3 separate regions of the Homo sapiens genome follow, and all the other regions are reported to be linked to region 2. Evidence: microRNA targets listed by miRTarBase, many of them from high-throughput screens and not tested one by one. Region 2 holds a microRNA gene; each other region holds the end of a gene's coding sequence.

Region 1 (7,000 bases), not on the chromosome of region 2:
GACTCTCCATGGATGTGCGAGCTCTAAGCAGAGACCTTCCACACACACAACCGGCAGACAAGGGTTTCTCTCCTCTGCCTCCCTCACCTTGCTCGTGGCTCCACTGGGATGAGGACAAAATGACTCCATCAAGATCGTGGCTTTGCAATTCCCCAGGAGATGAGAGATGACCCCGGGAAGCAGAGCAGAATTTCACCAGCAGGCTCCTCGGTGCCTAGTGCTGTGCCACTGACAAGTCCTTGGTCATCCTGGAAGGGGCCCCCAATTTCTGCCCTCCCTAAAAGGACTCGGTAGCCCCTCACCTCCAAAACAGCCGTGTTCTTTTAAGGCTCTGTTGAAATACATCCGTTGTCCAAATATGAGCAGTGCTCAAAAACCCAGAGAACTTTCCAAACGCAGGAATTAGAAGTAGCCTTGTGTCAAAAGAACTCCATTCCGGCCAACCTAGGAGGTCTCCCGTATTCGGGGAAGAAGACCGGAGTCAAAGGACTCATCTGTCCTGTGCCAGGGACTGCTGTGAAAGCCCCTCAGAGACCTCCAGGGCCACAGCAGCCCCACCCAGCCCCGCAGTCAGCCTCGGAGACAGCCTGGTTCCCTGTGGCTGACCGCAGGGTGTTCTCAGAGAACCCTGGCTGGACCGCTGCAAAGACCCTGGGGACACTCAGCAGCCCCTGGTGAGTCCCTCTCGACCGAGAGCATCTTGCAGAACAAGCCGTCTGTTTTCACGGCCGTTTCCAGGGGGAGCCCTGCCCACCGCCGTTCATCCTACCCCACTGGACAGGGCATTTACTTCTGAAGCTCCCCGTGGTGAAAAGACAGACCCCCTCCAGGGATTCCAGCCGATTCCCACGCAGGAGTTGGACTCGTGCATGGCTGTGGTGGCGTAGAGCAGGCTGGCAGGGGCAGGCCACGCCGTGTCCCCAGTGCCATGGTCAGTTTCAGCCAGTTATGGCCTTAAGGGAATTTGCACCAAATCTTCCAGTTTCCAAGATAAGTCGGAAGTGAGGCTTTTCCCATAAACTCTCCTGATTTTTTTTCTTGAGACGGAGTTTCGCTCGTTGCCCAGGCTGGAGTGTAGTGGTGCCATCTCGGTTCACCGCAACCTCTGCCTCCTGGGTTCAAGCGATTCTCCTGCCTCAGCCTCCTGAGTAGCTGGGATTACAGGCATGCACCACCACACCCAGCTAAGTTTTTGTATTTAGCAGAGATGGAGTTTCACCATGTTGGTAGGGCTGCTCTTGATCCCCTGACCTCAGGTGATCCACCCACCTCGGCCTCCCAAAGGGCTGGGATTACAGGTGTGAGCCACCGTGTCTGGCCTCCGGTTGGTTTTGCTTTCGATTTTCCAGGCTTAGAGAAGTCATGGGAGGCTCCAGGTTCTTTGTGTCACATTCAAGGTCTGGGGCATGTGGTGATTTCGTAGGCCCACCTCTGGCTCCCCTAGAGTTAGTCCTAGCCCACGTGCACAGCCCCCTTCTTTTTGTAAGATGCCCCTGCGACCAAGGGCTCCAAGCACACCTGGTAGGGCCTCTGCATCTGCCGGAAAACACCTGCACTGCCAGCCCCAGCCCCAGCCCTGCCCTCCCCAAGGCTCCCAGACTGCTCCCACTGGGAGTGGTTCCCACCTGGCCTGGGGCACTTATTAAAAATCAGATCTGGGGCTGGGTGAGGTGGTTCACGCCTGTAATCCCAGCACTTTTGGAGGCCAAGCCAAGAGGATCACTTGAGGCCAGGAGTTCAAGGGCAGCCTGGGCAACATAGCAAGACCTCATCTCTACAAGAAAATTTAAAAAAAATTAGCCAGGTGTGGTGGCGTGCACCTGTAGTCCCAGCTACTTGGGAGCCTGAGGTGGGAGGATCACCTGAGCCCAGGATTTCAAGGCTGTAGTGAGCTATGATTGCATCACTGCACTCTAGTCTGGGGAACAGAGCAAGACCCTATCTCTAAAACACAAATCAGATTCTTTGACCCTCCTCCAGAACAACTGCCTCAAGGGAGAGGCCGGGAACGTGGGTGTTCAGCAAGCACCCAGGGGACGCTTGTGCTCTGGAAGTCCGGGGATCGAGTCTGCAGGCTCCCACTCACGATGTGGGGGGCATGACTAGATGGCACGTAAAAATATATGTGAAAGGAGCTATTTTCATTTTTTTCTGTTTTTTTTTTTTTTTCTTTTGAGGTGGAGTCTTGCTTTGTCTCCAGGCTGGAGTGCAGTGGAGCGATCTCTGCTCACTGCAACGTCCACCTCCTGGGTTCAAGCGATTCTCCTGCCTCAGCCTCCCGAGTAGCTGGGACTACAGGCGCCCGCCACCACGCCTAGCTAATTTTTTGTATTTTAGTAGAGACGGCTGTTTCACCATGTTGGCCAGGATGGTCTCGATCTCTTGACCTCATGATCCCCCCGCTGCACCCTCCCAAAGTGCTAGGATTACAGGCGTGAGCCACCTGCCCAGCCTGTTTTATTTTCAATAACAGCCTTGAGGTATAATTGACACACCAGAACGTCCACATTTCTAAAGCATGCCATTGAGTGGCTTTTGGTACAGTCACAGATCAATCACCATCATCTACCCAGGGAGCTTCCACGATTGTACGTCAGGGCCTCGGCCTCGGCCTCGGCCCAGAGAGTCTGATGGCATGAGGCCAACGAACCTGTGGTTTGCCAGTTTTATTTTACCTGCTGTGCAGCCAGGTATGAGAGCCACAGAACTAGCACAGAGGCACTCCACTGGGACCATGGTGGCCTGTAGGAGACATGAGCACTGGCTGCAAACACTTCCGATTGTCCTAATAAGGGGGCTGCCCTTGGATTCAGTGGGGAGGGCTCAGGGATACTGCTCAGCACCACTGCAGGACAATAACACAGCCCTCAATGTCAACAGTGACCACGCTGAAAAAGCCAGCCCTGCAGGAACCTCAAGTCTCTCCCGTCCTTAATGTGACCACTTGAGACCCCCAGGCCCAGCCCACAGTGGCCCCCAGAAACAGAAATGAGGGTGGTGGGACAGTTTCCCCGGTATTAGTGACGATGTAGGGATGAAGTGTAGGGACAATTCCTAAACTTTGATGTCTATCTGGAACCAGGGGCTCCTGTTCAATCAGTTTCTGATTCGGGGAGTCTGGGCTGCAGCCTCACTCTAACAAGCTCCTGGCTGATGCTGGGGTCCGAACCATGCCTTGAATAGTGAGGGTGTGGTTCACTACAGGCCACCCCAGGGCTCATGGTGTTTAATAAATGGAACTCCCCGCGGGGCGCGGTGGCTCACTCCTGTAATCTCAGCACTTTGGGAGGCCAAGGCAGGTGGATCACTTGAGGTCAGCAGTTCAAGACCAGCCTGGCCAACATGGTGAAACCCCGTGTCTACTAAAAATACAAAAACTAGCCAGGCGTGGTGGAGGGTGCCTGCAGTCCCACCTACCAGGGAGGCTGAGCCAAGAGAATCACTTGAACCTGGGGGGCAGAGGTTGCAGTGAGCTGAGATGGCACCACTTCACTCCAGCCTGGGTGACTGAGTAAGACTCCGTCTCAAAAAACAAAAACAAAAACACAGCACTCACGAGCCTCACACTGTGCAGAGTCCTGGACAGCGCTGCCTCATGCATGGCGGGCACGTGCAGCTACCTCAGCATGTGAGGTGGGAGAGTCCAGGGGCACTCACCCCACTTTGCAGATTACCCCAAAACACTTCTCTCTGCAAAGCATTTTTCCCACCACTGGAAGGCGGCTATGGCAGTTTCCTGAGAATTTTTTTTCCATATCAAAGAATCGAGGAGCTGCAAAGTAAAGACTCAGGAGGCCAGATATGTCCCCCCGTCTCCTCCTGCCACGTTCTCTCCCTCCCCTGCTACCCAGGCACCCCAGGCGGATGCAGGGGGCTAGCTGGCTGGCCAGGATCACCCGTCCTGTGGGCTCCGAAAGGCTATTACAAAGGCAGATTCCTGGGAGGGCCCATTCCTGGGAAGCAAGTGCGGCTTGAGCGGAGGTCACAGCAGCCAGTCGCCAGTGCCAAGCAGCCAGTGAGCAGCTGTCCCAGGTGGGCTCTGTCAACACAGCCTCTGCAGGTTCCAACCAGGAGATGAAGCCAGGCACTGGTGTGGCAAGAGCACCGAGGCACGCTTCCTGAGAGGCACAGTCACATCCCTGGGAGCCAGGAAGGGTCAGTGGGGAGTGTCGGACGCCAGGGGAGCACGGGACTTTCAGAAAGAGAAGATGCTCTTCCACCCAGCCGGCAGGGCCTCCGCCAGGGGCTGGTGCTATCTTAGACAGAGTGGGTGTTGCCCTTGAGGAGCTGTGAGCTGAGTCCCGTGGGGGTGTTGCAGAGGCCCCAGTCTCCCTTCTGCCCCAAGTCCAAGCCCACTCTTGGGGAGCTGTGAGGCTGAGGGTGCATTCTCCCAAAGCTGCTCCAGCTCATCCCAGGCAGCCTCGGGTTGCCAGTCTCCTAAGTGACCCAACATCTGTGCCCCCTTTGCTGGCAGCACTCCGCCCCATCCTTGTCCCCTGCCTCGTCCTCTGCCCCTTGCAAGCTTCCCTGGCTCTGTCTGCCCTCTGCCCAGAGGCCCTGCCCTACCCAGTGTGTGCTGGAGGCCGGGCTCAGAGGGTCCAGCCTGTGCCCAGCCACTGGAGCCGAGACCGAGAAAAGTCCTGAGATGAAACCCAGGACAACAGAAGGCAGGTGTGAGCCCTGCGAACTCCTAACTGGGCGCCGGGATCTGTCCAGCCAAGCAGGGGCAGGGGTGGGCCGACAGGATGGGGACCCAGGCCAGGAACTAACTTCACAGGAAAAGCCCTGGGTGGGCAGGAAGATTCCAGAGCACGCTGTGGCTGACAAGGGCTACAGGCAGCAGTGTGGAGCCGGGGAGGCTCGGGGTGGCCCTGTCTTCTGGGCGGCGGCCCCCAGAACCAGCTGGCAGCAAGCCTCGTATACAAGGTAAGACCACAGAGCCTGGCAGTGGTTTGGAATTCGTTCTTCTCTTTTGTTAAAAGGGGGAAAGGAAGTGGATGCGGGTACCCCCAGGTGCAGGGGAGGCATGCAGGCAGCCCCAGCAGGCAGGCGCTGGGAGGCGGTGGGAAGAGTCCTGGAGTTTCCCACAATCCTTTTCTCTGCAAGGAACAGCAACGCTGGCTGACGAGGGGGTGGGGAGGAGGCAGGGCCCTGGGGAGGGGGCGGCGGGCAGGGGGCTGGGGGCTCACACTAACATGCAAAGTCCAGCTGCCCCAGGAACTAGGTTGCTTCTGAAGAGCGACACACGTAGAAATACACAGACACGGCCACGCGCACACATGCGGAGAGGCTCTGCATTCCCTAGGGTGGGGGTCGAGGCCTGCCGGCCCCCAAGGAGCTCCAAGCCAGGGATCAGCAATGTCTCTGCCAGGGTGGTCCTCCACGGCACCCCTGGGCTGGGCTGGGCAGGTGCGTCTTCGAAGGAAGGCTGCGTGGTCTCTGAAGTTCTGTCCGCCAGGCACCCAGGCCGCGCTGAACCACTCCATGTGCCGGGGCCGCTGGGGCCATGACCTTGCGTGTGGGCAGCTGCGTGTTCTGGCACCAGACGTGTCCCTGCCTGGCTAGAGTCCGCGCTCTCCCCTCCAGGGCTCCGGGGAACAAGGGGTGCAGACAGAAAAGGGGTGAAGGGGGCCCGCAGAGACGTCCTCTCCCCCGCCCCACGGGGTCCTGGCCTCCGGGAGGGGGGAGGGGCCTCCCTTATCTCTCTGCCTCCATGGCAGGGTGGGCCCTGGGTTCTGAGGTGGCCTGTTGGGGGGCCAGGGGTGGCCAGTCTGAAGCCGGAGAAGGGGGTGTTGGAGTCCACAGGGGCGGCTGTGGCTGGTGGTGCTGTGGGCCCCCCGGGGGCGAGGCCGCCGTGGGCCAGCTGGAGGCCGCAGAGCTGCTGGTGGCGGCATGGGGGAAGTGTGGCGGGGGTGACGTGGCTGTCGCGGCCATCGGGCTGCCGCTGCCACCGCTGTGGAAGCTCTCGGAGGCCTTGAGACGGGAGAACATGGTGAGAGCGTCAGGGAAGTTGGGGGGTGTAGCAGGGGTATTGGCGGGGGTGCACATCTGTGAGGGGAAGAGAGGAGAGATGGGGTGAGCACCCCTTCCTGGAGGGGCCCCCACTGCCTCCCAAGGGGAGATGCGTGGCTGGCCCATTCTCGGAAGGCTCTGTGTTCCTTCCCCAGATCCCCAAGCCTGTCCGCCGCCCAGGGGTTCCCAGAGGAGAAGCCTTGAGATGAACCGACCCAGCCTCACTCTCAGGAGCCCACGGTGCCTGGGGCCACGAGGCTTTCCCAGCCCACCCCTTTCCATCAGCCACAGCATCCCCGGGGGCTGTAGGGTAAGGAGCTTCATTGCCCCAGAGGCCAGCGCCCCCCAGGTCTCAGGGGGAGCTGGCACAGGCAAGATTAAGTGCAGGACCCACGGAGCCGGGACTCCTGCTGACCCATCTCCAAAGAGGTCGAGCCCCGCCTGCACCAGCGCCCTCGTACACCGGGGCCAGGGGCTGCTTATACACAGAACTAGCTCGGCCTCCTTCCGCCCAATCCAGAACTGGGGACTCCGGGGACACTTACCATCTGGTGGTGATGGTGGCTGTAGGGGATGTTGGTCTCCTGGAAAAAGGCGCTGAGGGCTGTCTGCAGGAAGAAAGGCCCCTGCTCACCCTCCAGGCCCCCGCCGGCCCTGCCGCTGCCCTTGTTCCCAGGCTCCTCTGAGGCTGGGGATGACCCTGGCTGGACTGCTGAGTGGGAGGGGTGAGTCGCGGTGCTGAGGCTCAGTGGCTTGCCTGTCACCCCCAACCCTCACTGCTGTCTAAGGAGGAGCCACGGAACCTTGGGCAGTTGGGGTGGGTGGAGAAGACCCTTCCCCTGCTGCTCGCCACCTGCCTCAGTGCCTAAGGCCTGCAGAGCCCTCCCCCTGCACCAGCTGGCACCAGCACCATGACTGGGGGAGGGCGGGCAGTACACCCCATCCTGGGGGAAAGGCGCCCGGCCCCAGGTAGCCCAACCAGACCTCC
Region 2 (7,000 bases):
TGTCACTGAATACGTCGTTCGAGTTCCTAAGTAAGTCCCCAGCCCCATCTCCCACTCCTCTCCACCCCCCAAAAATGAAAACCTTCACGATCTTCTTAGCCAGCCATTTCTGGCCCTGTCTGTGGTTCTCCCTCCAGACCGGGAGAGACTTGGAGGGCAGGGCTGGGATTAAGCTGAGGCTTCTCTGGGGACAACACTGCTTTTTTGAACGAATGAATGAATGAGTGCATTAATACACGGTGATCCAGCCCCCTGGCCTAACCTTCGAGGAGTATATGGTCCCATGATGCCCAGGCCAGCTGTAAGGACATATTCCTCGTCCTGTTTCAAAGTGGTCAGGCTGTCTTTCCTTTCCAGGCCTTTGTACATCCTGTTCCTCTGCCATGAGTGCCTCCCCTCAACCCCTAAACTGTGACTCTGCTGGGTGAATTCTTGATGATTCTGCAAAACTCAACTCCAGTATCTTCCTCCTCCAGGAAATACTCCCTGCCTGTCCTCCCTCCTCCCCAAGGCTGAGTTCACAATAATCTCCACATCTTGGGTTCCCCCAAATCTTCGTCCCTCCATCTGCTCTTCTTCTGCCTGGGGTCAGGAGAGGATGGGTCTAGCTTCTCTGGCAGACTGGGAATCCTTGGAGTCTTCCGTATCCAGTGTTGCCAGGCAAAACAGGCTGAATGAAGCTGGGTGGGTTTGTTGAGTGAATTGAATTGAATTAATGATTCAATTGAATGGAATGATTGAATTGAATTAATGGTTCAATTGAATTGAGTGATTGAATTAAAGTAATGATTTGATTGAATTAACGATCCAGTTGGGTGGTTGATTGAATTAATGGTTCAATAGCATTGACTGATTAAATTAATGATTGAATTGCTGTATTGGATTGACACTACCTCTTCTCATCCACTCCAGGAATACAACCAAAAAATATAACATCATGGCTTTTAATGCAGCCGACAAAGTCAACTTTGCTACGTGGAATCAGGTAAGTCTCTGAGTCCTGGGGGTCAGGGGCTGGGGTGGTGAGAGAACTTGACCCTGACCTTGGTGGTTGTGATAGTTGCTTAACTGTCATAGTCACTAAGTCTTAATTTTCTCACTTTTCTCCAAGTGAAGAAAAGATAGATGACAAAGGGTTGGGTGCAGTAGTTCACACCTGTAATCCCAGCACTTTGGGAGGCTGAGGCAGGAAGCTTGCTTAAGGCCAGGAGTTTGAGACCAGCCTGGGCAATACAATAGCAAGACCCCAACTCTACAAAAAAATTAAAAAGTTAGTTGGGGCTGATAGCGTGGGTCTGTAGTCCTACATAGGAGGCTGAGGTAGGAGGATCGCTTGAGCCCAGGGGTTCAAGGCTGCAGTGAGCTATGATTGTACGACTGCACTCCAGCCTGGATAACAGAGCAAGACCCTGCCTCAAAAAAAAAAAAAAAAAAAAAAAAAAAAAAACGGAAATGGCAAAGGCCCAGGCCTAGCTCCTGGGTGTCCCTGTAAGTTAGGTTTGGTAGGCCCACCAGAGGCCTCTCCTTAAAGGAGAACATTTAGAAGCTGTGCCCACTGTTGGACATTTTTGGCCATGGTTTATCTGGGCAAGGGAGGGGACTGGGCTGGGGGCTTTCCCAGAGCCCCTGCCATCAGAGGCTCTAGAAAGGACTTTGGGAGCCATTAAAGCATCTTCAATTGGGAAGTTGTAGTGTGTGTGATCTGGCTGCTATGGGGAGACAAACTGTGGGTTTGAGGGCAAATAAACGGAGACCAAGGTAGAAGCAACTGGACTGGTCTAGGTGAGTCCTGGCAGGGCACTGGAGGCAGTGGAGGTTATGAGATGTGGCTGATTCTAGAGTGTTTTGGAAATGGTATATATGGACCTTAAATCAAGAGCTTAAGGGTAATTCGGATCACATTAGCCATGTAGGTCACGATAAATTGTTAATTTGTAGAGATTTTGGTGCCTTAATGTCAGCAAGTGTTGCACAATGAGTTTCTTTTTATTTATTTTATTTTATTTTTTTGTGATGGAGTCTCTTGTCATCCAGGCTGGAGTGCAGTGGCGCGACCTGGGCTCACTGCAACCTCCACCTCCCAGGTTCAAGCCATTCTCCTGCCTCAGCCTCCCAAGTAGCTGGGATTACAGGCGCCCACCACCACGCCTAGCTAATTTTTGTATTTTTAGTAGAGACGAAGTTTCGCCATGTTGGTCAGGCTGGTCTTGAACTCCTGACCTCAAGTGATCCACCCGCCTCAGCCTTCCACCATGCCCAGCCTTTTTATTTTTAGGAAATAGATATAGGATCTCACTATGTTGCCCAGGCTGGTCTTTTTTTTTTTTTTTTTTTTTTTTGGGGACTGAGTCTTGCTTTGTCGCCCAGACTGGAGTGCAGCGCCAGGATCTCGGCTCACTGCAAGCTCCGCCTCCCGGGTTCACGCCATTCTCCTGCCTCAGCCTCCCAAGTAGCTGGGATTATAGGCGCCTGCCATCATGCCCGGCTTATTTTTTGTATTTTTAGTAGAGACGGGGTTTCACCGTGTTAGCCAGGATGGTCTCAATCTCCTGACCTCGTGATCCACCTGCCTTGGCCTCCCGAAGTGCTGGGATTACAGGCGTGAGCCACCGCGCCTGGCCTTTTTTTTCTTAAGACAGAGTGTCACTCTATCACCCAGGCTGGAGTGCAGTGGCATGATCTCGGCTCACTGCAACCTCCGCCTCCCAGGTTCAAGCCATTCTGATGCCAGGCTGGTCTTAAACTCCTGAGCTCAAGTGATCCTTCTGCCTTGGCCTCCCAAAGTTCTGGGATTACAGGTGTGAGCCACAGCACAATGAGTTTCGATATGCATGCATTCTGGAGAGATGTGTGGAAATTCTAGGTACTTAGACATTTTTTGAAAAGAATCCTGGAACCAGATGCCTGCTGTAGATAATAGGGAAGTCTAATTAATTACTTCTACATTCCTCAGATAAGGAATTTTGCCTCCGATGGCCTGCTTGATGGTCACCAGGTGGTCTTTTTCTCTTTAATTTTAATTTGGAAATAATTTCAAGCTTTTAAGTTGCAAAAATAGAGCGCAAGGCTCGCCCAAATTCCCTTTACCCAGATTTGTCAAAGGCTACCGTTCTCCTCCCTTGTTGCCAAGTGGTAAGTTGGTTTTGAGAATCTAGAGCTTGGCCTAGGGCAAGGAAGGGCGTTCCTGGAGGGGGGCACTGCGCAAGCAAAGCCAGGGACCCTGAGAGGCTTTGCTTCCTGCTCCCCTAGGCTCGGCTGGAGCGGGACTTGAGCAACAAGAAAATCTACCAAGAGGAGGAGATGCCCGAATCGGGCGCGGGCAGTGAGTTCAACCGCAAGCTTCGGGAGGAGGCTCGGAGGAAGAAGTACGGCATCGTCCTCAAGGAGTTCCGGCCCGAGGACCAGCCCTGGCTGCTCCGGGTCAACGGCAAATCAGGCAGGAAGTAAGTGGTGGGGCGGTGGCGGTGCCGGCTTAGTGACCAGTCCACATCCCCAGGCCTCAACTTACATACTTTGTGGGGTACCCTCTCTGAACCTCAGATTCCCACTGCTGCAGTGGAAGTGCTGGCACTTCCATCCCTGTAGGATTTTATTATTTATTTATTTATTTATTTATTTATGTTATCTTATTTTACTTACTTGTATTTTTTTGAGACAGAGTCTTGCTCTGTCGCCCAGGCTGGAGTGCAGTAGCACGATCTTGGCTCACTGCAACCCACACCTCCCAGGTTCAAGTTATTCTCCTGCCTGAGCCTCCTGAGTAGCTGGGATTACAGGTGCCTGCCACCACCACGCCCAGCTAATTTTTGTATTTTTAGTAGAGACAGGGTTTCACCATATTGGTCAGGCTGGTCTCGAACTTGGCGATCCTCCCGCCTCGGCCTCCCGTAGTGCTGGGATTACAGGCGTGAGCCACCGTGCCCAGCCTACTTATTTATTTTGAGACAGGGTCTCACTCCGTTGCCCAGGCTGGAGTGCAGTGGTGCGATCGTAGCTCACTGCAGGCTCCAACTCCTGGGCTCGAGATCTTCCCACCTCAGCATCCTGAGTAGCTGGGACTATAGGCACGCCCCACCATGCCTGGCTAATTTTTGTATTTTTGGTAGAGATGGGGTCTTGCTGCGTTGCTCAAGCTGGTCTTGAACTCCTGGGGTCAAGTGATCCTCCTACCTTGGTCTCCCAAAGTGCTGGGATTATAGGTATGAGCCACTGCCCAGGCCCTGGGGTTGTGTTTTTGAAGACAGTTCACTGAGTTGGTGCTTGTGCCTGGCTCTGAGGCAGCTCTGAGTGCCACAATGCAGGAAGCTTAGGTGGCCAGCCCTGGGAGCTCATGACACTTGAGATGACCTCTCAGAGGGGGCAGACTGAGGGCAGAACAGGAGGGGTCCAGGTTAGGTTGATGAAGGGTGCTCCAGGCACAGCAGTTGGGTGATAGTGACAGACACAGGCAGCTCACACAGGGCAGTGGGTGCCAGGATGTGCTGGGTCCAGCGGAGCCTTGGAAAGCTGTAGGCAGGGAAGAGGCACTCACCCAGACTGTCCGGAACTTTGGGGTAGAAAAGAATGAGGTAGAGGCCTCAAGGAGGCTGGGCAGTTGTTTAGGCTTGAGGAAATGGTGGCCCGGGCCAGGTGTCCACTTCAGATTTGGCCATGCCATGGCTGGGCGCGGTGGCTCACGCCTGTAATCCTAGCCCTTTGGGAGGCAGAGGCGGGCGGATTACGTGGGGTCAGGGGTTCGAAACTAGCCTGGCCAACATGGTGAAACCCTGTCTCTACTAAAACTACAAAAATTAGCTGGGTGTGGTGGCAGACACCTGTAATCCCAGCTACTCGGGAGGCTGAGGCATGAGAATTGCTTGAACCCGGGAGGTGGAGGTTGCAGTGAGCTGAGATGGTGCCACTGCACTCCAGCCTGGGTGCCAGAGCGAGACTCCATCTCAAAAAAAAAAATTTGGCCATGCCTTCCCGCCCCATCTTCTCACTTGGCTCCTCAGTTTCCCGGGTGTGGCCCACAGATAGCAGAGCTGGAGGCAAATGTAGACAGTTTGACTGCAGGGTTGGGCTCTCCTGAGATAATCTCACACAGTCTTTCCAGAAATGATCCCGATGTGCACACGCCCAGCACTTTGCAGGGTAGGTGCGCCGGCCCTGTTCCCCAGATGTGGAAATTGACGAGGCCCAGGTGGTTGAAGGGCCTGCCCAGGCCTCATGGGCATTTCTTGGTCTTCCTCCTATGGCAAGTGCCATAAAGGAGGCAGGCCCCGGGGGGACACGGGGGGGCTGGGGCTGGTCCCTATGGGCCAGGCCATGACCGTGGCTCCCTGCAGGTTCAAGGGCATCAAGAAGGGAGGCGTAACAGAGAACACGTCCTACTACATCTTCACCCAGTGCCCCGACGGGGCCTTCGAGGCCTTCCCCGTGCACAACTGGTACAATTTCACACCGCTGGCCCGGCATCGCACGCTCACTGCCGAGGAGGCCGAGGAGGAGTGGGAGAGGTGAGTGGGCTGGGTGGTGGCTGGGGACAGAAGTGAGGGAAATGGGGTGCCTTGCCATGGATATATCACCAGGCCCTGTGCTGGGAGCTGGGGACTCAGGGGTAACCAGGGCAGACCCCACTCGGCCGTCTCAGAGCTGTCAGTTCAGGAGGAAACAGATAGGAGGCCTTAGGGCCACAATGGGGCACCCCAGAGGGTGCTGCCAGAGCCAGAGTCTGTGACCCGGAGCTCAAATTGGCAGAGCAGGGTGGGGTCTAACTGCCCCCTTGGCTTTCCGCAGGCTGCAGGTCACACAGCCTGATCCACTGCAGGGCAGCAGCTCCAGGCAGGGCACCCGAGGAGGGTTTCTCTAGCAGTGACATCGGCCTCAGAGGTGGGGCGGGTGCAGTTAAGGGCTGTGGAGGGACACAGTGCATGAGGCCAGTGCAGAGTGACTGTGGGCAGGGGGACGAGGCTGGGGGCCCAGAGCACTTGGTCTTGGATGTATGGCTTTGGATGAGACCGTAGGGCCACCACCACCCTAGGGTGCTTGCAGATGGTGGGGAGGGCACTCTGGACGCATCTACAAATGGCATTTGCACAGGTCACAGATGAGCAGATGCTCAAAGAGTCGATGGCTCCCAAAGGTTAAAAAAACACCTTTTTCGGCTGGGTGTGGTGGCTCACGCCTGTAATCCCAGCACATTGGGAGGCCAAGGCAGGCGGATCACGAGGTCAGGAGATCGAGACCATCCTGGCTAACACGGTGAAACCCCGTCTCTACTAAAAATACAAAAAATTAGCCGGGCATGGTGGCGGGCGCCTGTAGTCCCAGTACTCGGGAGGCTGAGGCAGGAGAATGGCGTGAACTGGGAGGCGGAGCTTGCAGTGATCCTAGATGTTGCCAGTGCACTCCAGCCTGGGCGACAGAGCGAGACTCCGTCTCAAAACAAAACAAATAAAACACCTTTTTCCCTCTTTGGTGTTTTTTTGTTTGTTTGTTTGTTTGTGTGTTTTTTTTTGAACTGAGTTTCGCTCTTGTTGCCCAGGCTGGACTGCAGTGGCGCAATCTCAGCTCACTGCAACCTCCGACTCCTAGGTTCAAGCAATTCTCCTGCCTCAGCCTCCCAAGTAGAGAAATGGGATTACAGGCATGCACCACCACGCCTGGCTAACTTTGTATTTTTTGTAGAGACAGGGTTTCACCATGTTGGCCAGGTGGTCTCAAACTCCTAACCTCAGGTGATCTGCCCCCCTCAGCCTCCCTAAGTGTGGGGATTACATCCGTGAGCCACCACGCCCGGCCTGTTTTAGTTTTGTTGTTTTGTTTTTTTGAGACCGAATCTCGCTCTGTCACCCAGGCTGGAGTGCAGTGGCGCGATCTCAGCTCACTGCAAGCTCCGCCTCCCGGGTTCATGCCATTCTCTGGCCTCAGCCTCCTGGGTAGCTGGGACTACAGGCGCCTGCCACCATGCCCGGCTAATTTTTTTCTATTTTTTTGGTACAGATGGGGTTTCACCGTG
Region 3 (7,000 bases), not on the chromosome of region 2:
TCCTGCATAAAAGTAAGTATGTCGCCCAGGTGCGGTGGCTCATGCCTATAATCCCAGCACTTTGGGAGCCCGAGGTGGGCAAATCACTTGAGATCAGGAGTTTGAAACCAGCCTGGTCAACGTGGTGCAACCCTGTCTCTACTAAAAATACAAAAAAAAATTAGACAGGCGTGGTGGTGGATGCCTGTAATCCCAGCTACTTGGGAAGCTGAGGCAGGAGAATGGCTTGAGCCCGGGAGATGGAGATTGCAGTGAGATGAGATTGCGCCACTGCACTCCAGCCTGGGTGACAGAGCAAGGCTATGTCTCAAAAGAGAAAAAAAAAGTAAGTATCTCAGTCTTGAAGATGATGAAATGGAGGCCTAGAGAGATTAAGTAACTTGCCCAAAATGACAGAACTAATGCATAGAAAAGAAGAAATGTGATGTCTTTTGGCTCCAAAGACACCCCACATATGCGTTGGTTACAGTTACTAGAGAAAAGTTATTCCACCCCCACCCCACCCCCAGAAATCTTCTGACTTGTTTTCTCGCAGTTGAGTAGGACCATTTATTCGGCAGTGTACCATTCTCAGCTTGCAGTTGAAAGCCAAATATCCATTAAAGAGGCAAGGATGCAAACTTGCTAAGCTGATAAATCCAGGGGTGATTTTTTTTTTTTTTGCAAACCATCCAACAAGACATTTTAAATACTCATTGAATTTCATAGAACTGACTGCCAGGATTGGAAAGACATTAAAGCCAGCTCAGCCACTGCCTCGCTGGTTGGCCAGACCACGCCTGGCACTTCTGGGAGGGAGCACTCACCACCCCCCAAGGGCACCCATCTCATCCTCCGAAGGTTTATGAAAATGCACTCATCATTTGCTAATTCATTCCACTACGTGTATTACCTAATTTGTGACACGATGTGAAGTACCAGAGAGATAATTCTAAATAAAATATAGTTATGGGTCTCAAGGAGCCAGATATGCTAATCTCCTATCCTCCTGCAGTTTACAGTGGTCCTCACCAGATACTTATTTACAAAAATTCAGTTTATTATTTATTTTTTTGAGACAGAGTCTTGCTCTATAGCTCAGGCTAGAGTGTAATGGTGTGATCTCGGCTCACTTCAACCTCTGCCTCCCAGGTTCAAGTGATTCTCCTGCCTCAACCTCCCAAGTAGCTGGGACTACAGGCACCTGCCACCACGGCTAATTTTTGGAGTTTTAGTAGAGACAGGGTTTCACCACGTTGGCCAGGCTGGCCTCGAACTCCTGACCTCAGGTGATCTGCCCACATCAGCCTCCCAAAATGTTGGGATTACAGGCGTGAGCCACCATGCCCGGCCAAAACTTCAGTTTATAACACAATCTTTCACGTGTCTTCTGCTTTCATTAAAAGAATAGACAGTTCCCTTCTTTATTTCAGTTTAATAAACCATGGATTTTATTTCATGCTTTGCAAAACACAAGGGCTCACTGACATGCACTTCTTAAACTAATTCTGGCTGGTCGCCTGTAATTCCAGCACTTTGGGAGGCTGAGGCCGACAGATCACTTCAAGTCAGGAGTTCAAGACCAGCCTGGCCAATATGGTGAAACCACGTCTCTACCAAAAATATAAAAAATTAGCCAGGTGTGGTGGTGCGTGACTATAATCCCAGCTACTCAGGGGCCTGAGGCAGAAAAATCACTTGAACCCGGGAGGCGGAGGTTACAGTGAGCTGAGATCGCGCCACTGCACTCCAGCCTGGGCGACAGAGTGAGACTCTGTCTCAAAAAATAAATAAATACAAATAATGTAAAATACGAAACAAGCAATCCTGGCAGTAGCTGCTGGAATGAGAGGAGGGAGAGGTCATAGGGAGGTCGGGGACAATGGAGCATGGAGTTGTGTTGGATTTGGCTAAGCAGCAGGAAGTGCAAGGCATTCCAAGCAAGAGGAGGGGGGCAGGTGGGGAGCATCTGCAAGAACAGAAGCAGCATGAGCAACCTGGCTCGGCAGTGTGTGAAAAGGCTGAAAGGTGGCTAGAGCCACTTCAATTTCATCCTTCAGGCAAATGGGAAATTCCCAAAGGTTTGAGTGGGGAAGCAATGCCTACAATGAAAGTTTGAGAGTGAAGCAGAGTGATCGAATTAAGCATGTAGGCCGAGTTCTGAAATAACTGCAATGTGCTGAAGATCATCCATTGGCTTCTGAATGAGTATTTGCAGTTTATTTTTTAAAATGATTTTATTGCCAAGAAAGATAAACACTACTGTTTTGGTACAAAAACATAACAAAATGTGTTGAGTCCCTCTTGCTGTTTTACGCGAAGTTTTAAAAATCTACTCTTGTCACAGTGGTATCACCCCTACTTCTGATTTCAAATAAATGTTCTAGAGACACAGTAAGGGCCCAACAAACGCTTGTTCAACAACACAAGGAGAGCCAGCTTTTAAAGTAGGAAAACAGGCCGGGCGCCGTGGCTCACACCTGTAATCCCAACACTTTGGGAGGCTGAGGTGGGCAGATCACTTGAGGTCAGGAGTTCAAGAACAGCTTGGCCAACATGGTGAAACCCTGTCTCTACTAAAAACACAAACATTAGCCAGGCGTGGTGGTGCACACCAGTAGTCCCAGCTATTCAGGAGGCTGAGGCAGGAAAATGGCTTGAACTGGGGAGGCAGTGGTTGCAGTGAGCCGAGATCGTGCCACTGCACTCCAGCCTGGGGGACAGAGGGAGACTCCATCTCAAAATAAAACAAAACAAAACCAAATCATACAAAAACATTAGCTGGGTGTGGTGGTGCATACCTGTAATCCCAGCTACTTGGGAAGCTGAGGCAGAATTACTTGAACCCCTGGGGGGAGGTTGCAGTGAGCTGAGATCTTGCCACTACACTCCAGCCTGGGCAACAGAGTGAGGAGACTCTGTCTCAAAAAATATATATATTAAAAAAAAGAAAAAAAAAAGTAAACTAGGAAAACACATCAGCAGCCTGCCAACAGACTCCCCTAGCCTCGGTGAGGGCCAGTGTTCTGGGAGGCAGATCTGAATTCTAGTCCTAGTTCACCCACTGGCAGGCTGGTGCCCTTGGGCAGGTCGCTTCTCTGGGGCTCAGTTTCTTCCTCTATAAAATGAGATCAAATCCCATGTTCTAAGAGTTTGTGCTCTGGAGTCAGACAGATCTGGGTTCTACCACTGCCAGCTCTGTGATCTTGTAGCTTCAGTCTCGTCATCTGACATGGAGATAACAGTAACTGTCTCACTGTGTTGTTAGGGTTTAAAGGAGATAATGTATGTGAAATGTTAGCAAACAAGTGTTAGCTACCCTGATTTCCGGTTTCAGAGTTCTGTGGTCCCAGTTTATGCCACATGCAGTGACGTTGTATGGTAGGCTGTGGTGTGGCACCACTTCAGAACTCAGCGCATGCACAGCTTGCAGAAGAGAAGGCCAGAGGAGACCTAAGAAGGCTCTTCGAACACTTGAAAGACCGGCATGTAGGCCGGGCGCAGTGACTCACGCCTGTAATCCCAGCAGTTTTGGAGGTCGAGGCGGGTGGATCACCTGAGTTTGGGAGTTTGATACCAGCCTGACCAACAAGGTGAAACCCCGTCTCTACTAAAAAATACAAACATTAGCTGGGCATGGTGGCGGGTGCCTGTAATCCCAGCTACTCCGGTGGTTGAGGCAGAATTGCTTGAACCCGGGAGGCAGAGGTTGCAGTGAGCTGAGATTGCATCACTGCACTCCAGCCTGAGACAAGAGCGAAACTCCATCTCAAACAAAACAAACAACCAACCAAACAAAACCAAAAAAAAAACTGGCATGTAGAAGAAAAATACTTTTTCTCTACACTTCTCCAAAGAATTTAACTAGGCCCAGGGGAGGTGCAGTATAAATTTCTAACAATCTCAACTGTCTGCCAAATGGAATGAGCTACTTCATATGGCAGTAGTGAGTCCTCTGTCTTTGGAGGCATTCAAATAAAAGCCAGATGGCCATTTATCAACAATCCATGTAAAACGTTAGATGAAATAAAACCTATATATCCAAGATCTCTTCCAATTCAGATTTTATGAAAGAATTTCTAAGGTCTTTGTAATGAGACATTTAGGCTGTTTCAAGAGATCAAGCCAAAATCAGTATGTGGGTTCATCTGCAATAAAAATGTTTGTTTTGCTTTTACAGTTTCCTCATTTGGCTGTTGGATTTTAAGCAAAAGCATCCAAGAAAAACAAGGCCTGTTCAAAAACAAGACAACTTCCTCTCACTGTTGCCTGCATTTGTACGTGAGAAACGCTCATGACAGCAAAGTCTCCTTATGTATAATGAAACAAGGTCAGAGACAGATTTGATATTAAAAAATTAAAGACTAAAAACTTAGTTTAAGAGTCAATTTAATAAGTTTAAAATAAATGTTTAGTTTCATTAGGATGATGCTATCAATATTTTCTTGGTTACAGACACATTATTAAAGTTTTGGGTTAATTTTATTGACAATTCTTAAGATTCTTTCTCATGCTTAATAAAGCATGCTACTCAGTTAACTCTTGTCTACATCAGCAAAGCAGATAATACAAAACAGGAAAATTACAAATCACTGATACTTAGTCCTTGTGGGAATCATGCTTTTCTCCCAGCAGTTTTACAAGGTGGCTGGCATTCCCTGAGCATATTCTGAATTGCACTGTGGGGAAAGAGGTTGTGCTCAGTTGTAGGGTGGGGGGATGCACTGCCTGAGGATTAAAAAACTAGTTCTGTGACCGTGAGGAAGTCGTTTAAATTTCCATGGTCTGTTCCCTCCTATGTGAAAAGAGAAGGTGGGCTTCAACCTCTAAGATCTTCTCCAGTTTTCACATTTTATGGACTTTTGTAGAAAAAACATCAGGAGTTCATGTGGGATGACAGCAAGTCATTTCTTTGAGGAGAGTCTTGATCACCAGGCAATATTCACAGTGTAGAGACTGTCAGATGACCATGGCTAGCATGGAAATGAGACCCACACATTTAAATCACCCAGCAAATATTCCGAAGGCTAATTGTAGCACATTTTATGAAAGACATTTCAAACTGTGGTCCTGAAGAGTGTATCCCATCTTGCAGAGGTGGGGAGCCTGGGGGGACAAGAGTTCTGAAGAGGAAGAGACAACAAGAGTTCCCAGTAGCTAATGTTTGTCATTCTAGTTGACCGTGCTGGTCTATTAGGCTAGTGGTTCAGTACACAGATGAAATGCAACATGGAACCCAGTTTATTATCAGAACAACTACAAAGAAATTGTCCCCTGTCTAAGACTGGAGTGTCAAGTCTCTGCCCTTTTTTCCTTTCCTTCAATGGTGGATGTGGAGTGACTGTGCATCCCACCAGAACCACGTGTCATGGCTGAGTCACATCTTCCTGCCCTTGGAATGAGAGGCACAGCGGAAGACCTTCCCATGGAAGGGACACAGGGAGCCTGGTGGCTGGACCATGGTGCTTCTCTCTTCCAACACGTCCACTCACCCCTTGGGAGACCCTCAAAAGCCAGTTACATTACATGTTCACAGAATTTTTGGTAAAAGTAAATACCAATTATAGTGAGGAAGAATTTTGACCACGGAATATTTTAAAAACTAAAAAATGTTTATATTTCATTTAACATTTGACACAGAAGAGACCACATTTGAATAAACACATTAAATCTTCAGAGCACTTTCATTGTGGTTTTGGACCTCAGATATGACAAATACTTACATTGACAAATCCATAATTTCTTTTGTAATTTCTTTTTATTTTTACAAATTATACCATGATAAAATTTGACAAAAATTATTCATGTGAAAGTTTCCTCTAACATTTTATAAGTTAATCAAGTGCATACCACAATAGATTTTTGGTTGTTGTTTAGGTGTTCTCGTGATTTTAGTATTACACAACTTTAAGCTGAGACTACACTCAGAAATAAGTTTAGAAAATGGCATTACAAAAGGTTGGGAGTGAGCAGTAAAAAAACAAACAAACCCATGCAGGGCTGTTGTGCTGTGGGAAATCAGATGTGTTCACTGCCATAAGTCTTCAGTGCGGCCAAACTTAAAAACCAGCCCTCTGTGAATAAAACAAGAAATATCACATGACTCCCTGAATTTGAGAAAAGAGTATGTGAGATTTCGAGAATGGTGTGAAACAAACAACGAAGAATAATTGATGAGTTGTAGAAGAAATTTTGGTACGAAATGTATCAAAACAGAAACTGATCATTCTAAGGTAGTGAATTCTTCCATTATGTTCAACTGTGCTATTAACCACCATATTCCCAACAACCTTAACTTTCAAGTACTGAATACACATGTGACTTTTAAAAAGTTACCAGTGTTTACTATGTAACCATTATATGTCTGATTTTTTTTTTTTTTTTTGAGACAGAGTCTTGCTCTGTCGCCCAGGCTGGAGTGCAGTGGCGTGATCTCGGCTCACTGCAAGCTCTGCCTCCCGGGTTCATGCCATTCTCCTGCCTCTGCCTCCTGAGTAGCTGGGACTACAGGCACCCGCCACCATACCCGGCTAATTTTTTGTATTTTTAGTAGAGATGGGGTTTCACCATGGTAGCCAAGATGGTCTCGATCTCCTGACCTCGTGATCCGCCTACCTCGGCCTCCCAAAGTGCTGGGATTACAGGCGTGAGCCACTGTGCCCAGCCCTATACGTCTGATTTTATCAAATTCATTCAACAAACTGTTTTGGTGCCAGGGCTATAAATAAGATACAAAGCCACTGCCCTCAAATTGCTCTCATTCTTGCTAACGTGATGTGGTAAGTGTGGGGGTGGTTGGGGAAGGAGACTTATATAACAAGTATTAAGGGGGCACAGAAACACAGAATTCGGTCACCCTGAATAAGTTAGAAAAGGATTTACAGAGGTGGTAATATGTGAGATGGGCTTTTGTGGAAAAACAGGGGTTTGAATGGGAGATTGGTAGGAACAAGACCTAGCGGGATGATGAAGGCAGGTGTTTCGGGGACAGGAAACAGTACATCAAAGGGGAAAGAGGCAT

What was found. The annotated mature microRNA hsa-miR-6885-5p reads AGGGGGGCACUGCGCAAGCAAAGCC and lies in region 2 at 3,189-3,213, shown strand. An mRNA with a match to its seed (bases 2 to 7 or 8) in the 3' UTR can be bound and repressed. Matches are read on the target gene's strand: a 7mer-m8 pairs with bases 2 to 8, a 7mer-A1 pairs with bases 2 to 7 and ends in A, and an 8mer does both.
Region 1: miRTarBase lists UBALD1 as a target of hsa-miR-6885-5p. The part of its 3' UTR that is shown has no 7-base or 8-base seed match.
Region 3: miRTarBase lists TMEM50A as a target of hsa-miR-6885-5p. Seed matches in the 3' UTR shown: 7mer-A1 at 5,087-5,093 and 7mer-A1 at 4,692-4,698.

The regions. Positions count from the first base shown.
Region 1 is chr16:4,603,936-4,610,935 of GRCh38, forward strand. It overlaps UBALD1 (UBA like domain containing 1), which reads right to left. Exons shown (of 3, transcript NM_145253.3): 2 at 6,558-6,620; 3 at 4,949-6,048. The coding sequence ends at 5,698. Among named protein-coding and RNA genes, the nearest start is that of UBALD1, 7.5 kb to the right of the region's middle.
Region 2 is chr19:6,385,887-6,392,886 of GRCh38, reverse strand. It overlaps MIR6885 (microRNA 6885), which reads left to right and starts at 3,184; the gene lies at 3,184-3,249. It overlaps GTF2F1 (general transcription factor IIF subunit 1), which reads left to right. Exons shown (of 13, transcript NM_002096.3): 2 at 1-30; 3 at 913-985; 4 at 3,250-3,443; 5 at 5,328-5,498. RefSeq lists an enhancer at 5,355-5,855.
Region 3 is chr1:25,359,713-25,366,712 of GRCh38, reverse strand. It overlaps TMEM50A (transmembrane protein 50A), which reads right to left. Exons shown (of 7, transcript NM_014313.4): 7 at 4,352-6,053. The coding sequence ends at 6,008. RHCE (Rh blood group CcEe antigens) reads left to right here. Exons shown (of 10, transcript NM_020485.8): 10 at 4,160-4,464. The coding sequence ends at 4,186. Among named protein-coding and RNA genes, the nearest start is that of TMEM50A, 25 kb to the right of the region's middle.